Linked DNA regions of Homo sapiens: region 2 is linked to region 1. The links come from fine-mapping of genetic effects on gene expression. Tissue or cell type: testis. Region 1 holds a variant in brackets; the other region holds the start of a gene. All regions are shown on one strand. Distances are from middle to middle.

Region 1 (5,246 bases):
AGCAATAGAGCAAGACTCCATCTCAAAAAAATAAAAAACATAAAAAAGAGGAAGAAGAGATCTGGATTACCTAGTTATCCTGTAGAACACAAAATGGATCTGTTACACTGAGGACATGTGTTGATTGGACAGGACGAGCAAGAGGTGCTAACAGCAGGAGGCCTTGGCAGGACACATGTGCTCCATAGGGCAGGAGATCATCTTTATGAATATTCATGGAACTGCCACTTAGGTAAAGATTTTGGGTGTCCAGATTAAAAGACAAATTGCTGCATCTTGCATCTCACAAGAAGAAAGTACTAGCCCTGAAGGCCTCTTCCCATTCCACACCTGGGCACACAGCTCTAGTTCACATACTGAGTTACCTGAAAGGCTGGCAGCTTTGAGTGAATCCTGCAGCAAAAAGGGCTCTGCAGTGAGTCCAGGTGGCACTACAGGCAGTCCTGCCACTTGGCCCATTCAATATGGAAGACCTTGGAAAGGTCAGTGCTGGAAAGTTATGTCATGTGGAGCTTATGGCAAGCTCCAGAGGAAGAGTGCTTTTGTCTTTCTAGAATAATTCCTGGTGTGCTATGGGCCCCAGTCAAGGCAGCACTTTACCGTGGAGCATTACATGGCCATGAACACGAATATGCTCATTATGAGCTGGGTTCTCCTTCTTTTTTTTTTTTTTTTTTGAGATCAAGTCTTGCTCTGTCATCCAGGGTGCGATCTTGGCTCACTGCAATCTCTGCCTCCCAGATTCAGGTGGTTCTCATGCCTCAACCTCCTGAGTAGCTGGGATTACAGACGCCCGCACCACGCCCAGCTAAGTTTTATATTTTTAGTAGAGAAGGGGTTTCACCATGTTGGCGAGGCTGGTCTCAAACTCCTGACCTCAAGTGATCCTCCCTGCTCGGCCTCCCAAAGTGCTGAGATTACAGCTGTGAGCCATCATGCCCAGCCTGAGCTGGGTTCTCTTGAACCCACCAATCAGAGTCAGGGAGTCCCAGCCGCTGTCTATATGAAGACGGAAATGCAATGTCAGTGACTGAGCCTGAGCAGCACAGTAAGATGTGTGAGAAGCTAGCCCAGACTCCCCTTTTCTTTAGAGCTGTACCATCATCTCCCCCTCCAACTCACACATTTGGCCATAGAGGGCAAAGGAAGAGATGCTGAAAGAGGAGAAAAAGCCTGAACTCGGTTTATGGATAGATTAGCTTAGATTGTTTTGTGGGTGAAAGTTTAAAATGAATAGCAGATGCATTACAGTCACACTCAGGCGGAAATTTAAAAGACAGTGCTGAGTAATCCCAGCACTTTGGGAGGCTGAGGCTGAAGGATCACTTGACCCTGGGAGTTCAAGGCTGCAGTGAGCTATGACTGCACTGCTGCACTCCAGTGTGGGCAACAGATTGAGACCCTGTCTCAAGAAAAACAAACAAAAAATGAAAAAAGTGTTGAGAGAAAAATCTTTCCAATGGGTAGAACTTTGAGTATCACCTGATCATCCACTTTATGCAGAAAGAAAAGTAGCCCAAGGTGAGAATTTACGAGAGCTCGCGGGAATGGTGAATAGCCTGGTTGGTTTGCCAGCAGACTGAAACAGAAGGACTGAAAGATTGGAGACATGGAGGTCTAGGGTAGAGGCATGTGAAATGACATTCCCGGTGGGTGTGACAATTTTTGTATGCATCTTTGCTGCTCCTCCTGTCATAGATGAGGGTCTGTCTGCCCAACCCTTAAATCTAGGCTGAGCCATGTGACTTTGGCCAATGGAGCTACAGACAAAGGATACAAGCATAGGCTTCAAAAGTGCCTGAGCCTTGAGACTTGCCCTTCTTTGCTTCTAAGAATGCTTTGTCACTATGTGAAGAGCATAGCCTAGCCTCTTGGAGGATGTCAGCAGGTGGAGAGGGCCTCTGCCATCCCGCCTTTCCCAGTGGAAATCTCAGTGCATGAGTGAGCCCCACTGGTACAACACAGAACAGAAGCAAGTCTTCCTAGCTATGGCCCATCTCAATCACCGGTCCATAGAATCAAGATCAAATCAATGGTTGTTCAAAGCCATTATGTTTTGGGGTAGTTTATCATGCAGCAAAAGCAAACTGATAATGTAACTCTCTAGGCTTGGCTCTTAAAATATCAATAGGATGTGAAAAAACTCTCTTGACAAAGACAGGTTTCAGAAATTTGCTTCTGATTCAGAAATATCAGGTGTGAGCTTCTGAATTGATGAGCCTTTCTTCCATCAGACCTGCTCTCCCTTTCCTAGGATATTAAGCCCCATGTATATCAGCCTTAGGGATGGAAGTCTGCAAGGAAATACGGTTTAAGGAAGAAATTTAGGGAAAAACACATTTGCTTAATGTTTTTCGAAATATTATTATTCTCATTATTGAAATTGGCAGAAGACCAGGGAAACAGGTACTCTTATACACAGCTGATGGTAGAATAAATCATACAGACATTTTGGAACACAAATTGGCAGTATCAGCAACAATTGAGCATGAACCTACTGTTTGTTCAAGTGATTCCATTTCTTTATATCTGCTTTAGATGTGAAGAAACAACTATATAAAGAGGTCTAGACAGAGGTATTATTTGCAACATTTTAATAGCAAAAAGTTGGAAACAGGAAAATAGTAATGTAAATGATGGTATGTCTATATTGTGGAACATTGTGTTGCAATTAAGAGGAATGAGGTACTGGATAGAAAAGATATCCAAGATAAATTCTGAAATGAATATACCGGCTGGGCATGGTGGCTCAAGCCTGTAATCACAGCACTTTGGGCAGGCGGATCACTTGAGATTCAGGAGTTTGAGACCATCCTGGCCAACATGGCAAAACGTTGTCTCTATTAAAAATACAATAATTAGCTGGGCGTGGTGGCACACG[C/T]CTGTAATCCTAGCTACCTGGGAGACTGAGGCAGGAGAATCGCTTGAACCTGGGAGGCAGAGGTTGCAGTGAGCCGAGATCGCGCCATTGCACTCCAGCCTGGGTGACAGAGGGAGACTCTGTCTCAAAAAAATAAATAAATTAATTAAATGAATACAGTTCCTAGTTAAGGAAATACTAACCTCTATTATAGGTAAACATCAAAATCTCAAGGGCTTAACAATGGAAGTTTATTTTTTACTCATAAAATACAGTCTGCAGTAAAGGAGAGGGTAGATCCATTCCTTGCAGTCACTCAGGGCCTTGGGCTGTCATCTTCCAGTCACATTTTCTAAGGTCTTCCTGAGCATCTGCCTCTGGCCAGCAGATAGAGAAGAATGGAAGAATTCCTTGAGGGAGACTGTTAGGGGCCAATCCTAGAAGTGGCACTCATCATTTCTGCCTGTATTTCTTTGGCCCAAATCAGTCACATGAACATGTCTAATTTCAGGGTAGCTGGGAAATGTAGTCGAATTGTAAAGAAGCTGAAAGAGAAATGAATTTGATGAACAGCCACAAACACTGTTAGAACTCATTCCCACACATATACTGCAGGTTTCCATTGATACATACATGAACACCTCACAGATATTGCAGATGAGTTTCCCGACCACTCTAATAAAGCAAATATCACAATAAAGTGAATCACATGAATTTTTTGGTTTCTCAGTGCATATAAAAGTTATGTTTACACTATACTGTAGTCACTAAATGTGCAATAGCATTATGTCTAAAAAAGGTACACACTTTAATTAAAAATACTTTATTGCTAAAAAAAATGCCAATGATCATCTGAGCCTTCAGTGAGCTGTAATCTTTTTGCTGGTGGAGGGTCTTGCCAGGATGCTGATGGCTTCTGACTGATCAGGATGGTGGTTGTTGAAAGTTTGGGTGACTGTTTCTTAAAATAAAACAACAATAAAGTTTGTCACATTGATGGACTCTTCCTTTCATGAAAGATTTCTCTGTAGCATGTGATACTGTTTGATAGCATTTTACCCAGAGTAGAACTTCTTTTAAAATCAGAGTCAAGGCATCACATTACCTGATTTCAAATTAACAAAAACAGCCTGGTACTGGAATAAAAATAGACATATAGAACAATGGAACAGAATAGAGAACCCAGAAATAAAGGCATCTGTCTGTAACAAACTGATCTTCAACAAAGTCAACAAAAACATACGCTAGGGAAATGACACCCTATTGAATAAATAGTGCCAGGAAATTGGATAGCCACATGCAGAAGAATGAAACTGGACCTCTTCCTCTTACCATATACAAAAATTAACTCAAGGTAGGCTAAAGACCTAAATCAAGTTTGTCTAACCCCCAGCCTGTGGGCTTCATGTGGCCCAGGACAGCCTTGAATGTGGCCCAACACAAATTTGTAAACTTTCTTAAAACATTATAAGACTTTTTTTAGATTTTTTTTTTAACTCATCAACTATCGTTAGCGTTAGTGTATTTTATATGTGGCCCAAGACAATTCTTCTTCTTCTAACATGACCCAGGGAAACCAAAATATTGGATACCCCTGACCTGCATGTAAAACCTGAAACTATGAAAATCCTAGAAGAAAACCTAGGAAAGTCCCTCCTGAACACTGACCTGGGCAAAGAGTTTATGACCAAGTCTTCCAAAGGAAATGCAACAAAAACAAAAATAGACAAATGAAACTTAATTAAACTAAAGAGCTTCTGCAAAAGAAACAATCAACAGAGTAAACAGACAACCTATAGAATGGGAGAAAATATTTGCAAACTATGCATCTGAGAAAGAATCTACAAGAAATTCAGCTCAACAAGAAACAAGTAAATAACTCCATTAAAAAGTGGGCAAAGGACATGAACAGCCATTTTTCAAAAGACATACAAGTGGCCAATAAATATATGAAAAAATGCTCAGGATAACTAATCATCAGAGAAATGCAAATTAAAAACATAGTGAGATATCATCTTACACTAGTCATAATGGCTATTATTAAAAAGTCTAAGTCCGGGCGCAGTGGCTCACGCCTGTAATCCCAGCACTTTGGGAGGCCGAGGCAGGTGGATCACAAGGTCAGGAGATCGAGACTATCCTGGCTAACATGGTGAAACCCTGGCTTTACTAAAAATACAAAAAAAAAAAAAAAAATTAGCCGGGTGTGGTGGTGGGCGCCTGTAGTCCCAGCTACTTGGGAGGCTGAGGCAGGAGAATGGCGTGAACCTGAGAGGCGGAGCTTGCAGTGAGCCGAGATTGCGCCACTGCTCTCTAGTCTGGGCGACACAGCAAGACTCCGTCTGAAAAAAAGAAAAGTCTAAAAACAAGCCAGGAACAGTGGCTC
Region 2 (5,246 bases), 77 kb before region 1:
TAATTTCCCCTATGTATTTAAGGGAAATAAAAGGTTATGTTTCCCTTCAGAAGAACCATGGGATTGCTGCATGATGCACCTAATTGTCCACACTTTTGGAAAACAAACTTGAAGAAAAATAAAGACAGCATTAAACTTATATATTTATGTGACTAGAATACCTCCTGCCTATGAAACTTGTTAGAGGATTAAATACATTTAAAGAAATAATCCAGAAATGCTTCTATGAAATTTACCAAATAGAGTGTTAAGTACCTGAAAAGAAATAAGACTGGGAGGCTGAGGCAGGTGGATCACTTGAGCCTAGGACTTTGAGACCAGCCTGGGCAACACGGCGAAACCCCATCTCTACAAAACAAAAACAAAAGCAAAAACAAAGTAAAAACTAGCCAGGCATGGGGGTGCACCCGTATTCCCAGCTACTGGAGGGGCTGAGGTGGGAGGATTGTTTGAGCCTGGGAGGCTGAGGCCACAGTGAGCTGTAATCACACCACTGTACATCAGACTGGGCGACAGAGTGAGATCATGTCTCAAAACAAAACAAAACAAAACATGATGGGTGCGGTGGCTCACGCCTGTAATCTCAGCACTTGGGGAGGCTGAGGCGGGTGGATCACCTGAGGTCGGGAGTTCGAGACCAGCCTGACCAACATGGAGAAATCCTGTCTCTACTAAAAATACAAAATTAGCCAGGTGTGGTGGCACATGCCTGTCACCCCAGCTACTCGGGAGGCTGAGGCAGGAGAATCACTTGAACCTAGGAGGCAGAGGTTGCAGTGAGCTGAGATCACGCCATTGCACTTCAGCCTGGGCAACAAGAGTGAAACTCCCTCTATTAAAAAAAAGAAAAAGAAATAAGATAGCAGAATCTTACTCTCCAAATCTGCTTTCTTTTTCTAATATGTACTTTAAAAAAATATGCAGTATTCCTCTTGGTAAAGCATTAACTTAGTGATTAGATTGTGCATGGCAGTGGCAGCCAGTGCATCATTAATCTTAGAGGACTGTTCACTCTCATCAGTTGTCAAAAGGTAATGAAGACTGAGAATTTCTCAGCCCTATTGATAACACATGAGTACAGGCTGATTTGTATTTATTCCATGATCCTATTTTAGTCCCTTTTGGATAATGGAATCCCAATGTGTTATCTGTCTTTTTCTTCCTTCCTTCCTTCCTTCCTTCCTTCCTTCCTTCCTTCCTTCCTTCCCTTCCTCCTTCCTTCCCTCCTTCCTTCTTTCCTTCCCTTCCTCCCTCTCTTTCTCTCTCTCTCCTTCTTCCTTCCTTTTCTATCTCTTTCTTCTTTCTTTCTTTCTTTTCTTTCTTTTTATTTCTCTTTCTTTCTTTCTTTCGTTCTTTCTTTCTTTCTCTCTCTCTTTCTCTCTCTCTGTCTCTCTTTCTCTCTCTCTCTTTCTCTTTCTTTCTTTCATCAGGATCTCACTCTATTGCCCAAGCTGGAGTGCAGTGATGCAATCATAGCTTACTGCAGCCTCAAACTCCAGGGCTCAAGCGAGCCTCCTATCTCAGCCTCCTGAGTAGCTGGTACTACAGGTGTGCACCACTACACCTAGCTATTTTTTAAAAAATTTTTGTAGAGACGGGGGTCTCACTATGTTGCCCAGGATGATCTTGAACTTCTGTCCTCAAGCAATCCACTTGCTTCGACCTGTCAAAGTGCTGGGATTATAGGCGTAAGCCACCACACCCAGCCCTGATTGGATTATTTCTTTTTAAAATATCTCTTATACTTTCAAGTAAATTGACATTTGTGAACTTTCTATTTCTATCATTTATTGTTATTATAGAAATTATCATCTTAAAGTTTGAACATGTAAACATCCAGCTTCTGGAGATTGTGGTCTACCTAATTCTGAACCCTGGGAGTTTGCATCTAGGGTTGCTTAACCCTATCTGTAAAGTAGGAAAGTTCCAGCTCAGACTCTGGAATAATTCACATCCTCTGTATGTGGTGGATAAGAAACAAGATCTTCAGCCCAACACTGGGTCATCTGATCCTGTTTCCCCAGTATATCCAGGAAGTTGATTCCTTATTTAGACTTCTGTGCCTGAGTCCTTGCCTTCCACCTTGGTACATCAGAAACCTGACTGTGGCTTTTCTTCCTATGCCTCACTGACCCCGTTCCCTGCAAATTGGACTCTCCTCTATCTCCCCAATTCCATCTAGCCTAGTGAATGAGTTGCTCCTCTGCACGTCACTTTCTGTGACCAAATTCCAACAGCTACTTTTAGACCTTTCTGGCATTATCTCCCCTTTCTTCTGGAGCTCTTCCAAAGGTCTGACATTTGGACATCTACCAGTCACCTGCCTTTGTTGACAAAAATGTGGTAGAGCTAGAATGCAAGACCAGATTTCATCACCTCCAAAGACTGCTTGTCTGCACCAGATCCAACCACTGTTTATATGGACATTTTGAAAAGGTTCCCCAGATGAAGGGCCAAGATAGTGGCTCACCCCTATAATCCCAGCACTTTGGGAGGCTGAGGCAAAAGGATCGCTTGAGGCCAGAAGTTCAAGATCACCCTGGACAACAAAGTGAGACCCTGCCTCTAAAAATAAAAGTAAATAATAAATGTTTACAAATGTTCCCCAAATGAGAGATTTAGCAGAGCAAGTTCTGCAAAGAAGGCCTCTTGCAAACACTGGCTTCCTAAACAGTCAACTCACTGGGGCAAGAGCCAACTCTCTTAATCTAGTTGATGTCAGCGTAACTGAACGCCTGTTAGTCGAGGTGAGACACTGTCCCCTAGCAGGGCTAGGGCATGGAGGTAAAGATGACCCATGATAAGGTGGCCTCATTTGGTAGCAAAGGCAAATTGAAGATTTCTTGATCCATAAATCAGTCTATAAAAAAAAAGTAAGACTTTGGACTAACAGTCACTAGATTTTGGATACCTGGGGGGTTTTTTGTTTTGTTTTTTGTTTTGTTTTGTTTTTGCCTGTTTGCAGGCATCCAACACTCCTCTCGAATCGGTGTCTTGCAGAAGCAGAAGAAAAGTAATACATCTATTGTTTTTGAAATGAAAGCAGGAATTATTTTGCTGCAGAGCTATAGCTTAACATTTTTAGCAAAATGTGGATCCTTCTTCTCAATCTTCATTTAGGATGCTGTGACTACAACCCTCTGTTTAGTTAGTGGAATTGAGAACAAGGCCCAGGTGGATGATTGAGGACTAAACCCCAAACTTGCCTTGGATCACTCCACTGTTTCAGGTAAGATCAGAGAGTAGTTAACTCTGAGTTATACAAATTGTTGTCTGCAGTAGCATGAGAATACAACTTTCAGATCTCCTACTGCAGGAAGCATAATTTATTTCCAGCCCTAGCTGCTGGTGTGCCCAGGATTGAGGCCACACTTCCTGTGGGCTGCTCCCAGTCAGTGACTGAGTATGGCAGGGATATCAAGGAGGCCCCTTCCTGGGAGGCAGGGGCTCCTCTAATGGGCAACTTAGGTTCACTGACTCCCTTTTGACCTTGCTGAAACTTTCTGAGAACTACAAGGCAGTCTATGGCCTGTCTTTCCTCCTTCCTCCCTCCCTCCCTCCCTTCCTTCCTTCCTTTCTTTCTCCCTCCCTCTTTTTCTCTTTTCCTCTTTCCGTCTCCAGTTTCTTCCATTCTTCCTTCCTTCCCTTCTCCTCCCTCCTCTCCCTTCTCTCTTCCTTCCTCCCTCCCTCACTTCCTTCCTTCCTTCCTTCCTTCTTTCCCTCCTTCCCTCTGTCTTCCCAGGGGGCAGACGTGTGTCATGATCTGATGGCTCTCCTATCACCCTCTTGTTTCCTTCTCATTATCCCTCCCCAGTGCCCCAGTATTTTCGCCAATTAATCTCTTATCCAGCTAATCCTTTTTTGGCATTTGCTTGTCAGAGAACCTGGACTAAATCATTATTTAACTAATTTGTTTTGCATGTGTAATTTAGGATCAAACATCACTTCTGAGTTCGGGGGCACATATCATTCTTTAGAAGGGGGAAGACCTAATGCTGAAAAACAAAAACAAAAACAAAAACAAAAACCCAATATGTGCATTCTATGGATCAACTGACTCTGTTGACCTAAACATGTAGAACAGTATTCCAGTTCTTAATACTTTAAAATCTCTAGAGCAAGGCCTTATAGCTTGGAAGAAAACCATTGGAAAGCCAAAAGGAAAGAAGTGGCACCAGCCAATTCTCCTCATTCTAGGCCCAGGGCAATGAACTTAGGGAGGAGGTCGTGCAAACTGGAAACCATAGCCTTGTTTCATGGCTTAACTGGGGGTGGTTAAGGCTCTGAGAGGCAGGTTGTCACCTCATTATCTATCCACCCATGCACACAATGAAGTCCATGGAGAGCTCACTGTATGACCAGCACTGGTGGGCCCTGAAGATAACAGAGGTTATCCTCAAGAAACTCAAGTCTATGGAGAAGATAGGCTTGGAAACAGACTAATGACACAATACAAGCCCTAAAACTGAGATGTGAACTGACTTGGGAAGTATGGTAAGGACACCTCCGACTGCTTGGCAGATGGAAAGGCATTTAAAGTGGAAACTGAAGGACAGAAGAGATGGTCAGACAGTGAAGAGAAGTGACACTAAGGAGCCCCATTCACAGAGAGCAAAATAGATACATCTACAGTCTTTTTCTTCTTTTTCTTTTTTTTCAGCCAGGGTCTCACTCTGTCACCCAGGCTGGAGTGCAGTGGCGCGATCTCAGCTCACTGCTGTCTCAACGTTCCAGGCTCAAGTGATCCTCCCACCTCAGCCTCCCAAGTAGCTGGTACCACAGGTGGATGCCACCATGCCCAGCTAATTTTTATCTTATTTTTGGTAGAGATGAGGTCTCCCTATGTTACCCAGGCTGGTCTCTGACTCCTGGCCCGAAGTGATCCTCCTGCCTCAGCCTCCCAAAGTGCTGAGATTACGGGTATGAGTCACTGTGCCTGGATTTTTTTTTTCTCACACAAAGAGAGAGGAATTAAGTTTCTTCTCTTAAGGGAGGCAGTATCAGAGGATTTGTGGATATATCTTTAAAAACATCATATTGTTTTGAAAGACTACCACTCTGAAACAGACATAATTAGCATAAATGTAGAAAAATGCACAAACTACTTGCTTCAAGTACTTGTCACAAACTACTTCAGTGGATAGACTTCATGCCAAGACTTATCTAGAAGGTAAGGACAGGTTTTTTTGTGTTGTTTTGTTTTGTTTATTTTTTTGAGACAGAGTCTCTGTCGCTCAGGCTGGAGT

Which allele goes with the higher level. Alleles are on the strand shown, and positions count from the first base shown. SD is a standard deviation of normalised expression in the study named.
For the expression in testis of the gene that starts at base 3,137 in region 2, C is the low allele of the variant in region 1 and T is the other (small effect, 0.37 SD a copy in GTEx).

The links. PIP is the estimated chance that this variant, and not a neighbour inherited with it, causes the effect. A credible set is the group of variants that fine-mapping cannot tell apart.
Region 2: LINC02652 starts here. The variant in region 1 is the best candidate, but not a certain one, in a credible set for the expression of LINC02652 in testis (GTEx, PIP 0.88).

What each region holds. Positions count from the first base shown.
Region 1 is chr10:28,416,372-28,421,617 of GRCh38, reverse strand. No RefSeq gene overlaps it. Among named protein-coding and RNA genes, the nearest start is that of LINC02652, 77 kb to the left of the region's middle. The variant C/T (reference allele first, on the strand shown) is at 2,882.
Region 2 is chr10:28,493,704-28,498,949 of GRCh38, reverse strand. It overlaps LINC02652 (long intergenic non-protein coding RNA 2652), which reads left to right and starts at 3,137. Exons shown (of 3, transcript NR_134496.1): 1 at 3,137-3,229. RefSeq lists an enhancer at 5,219-5,246.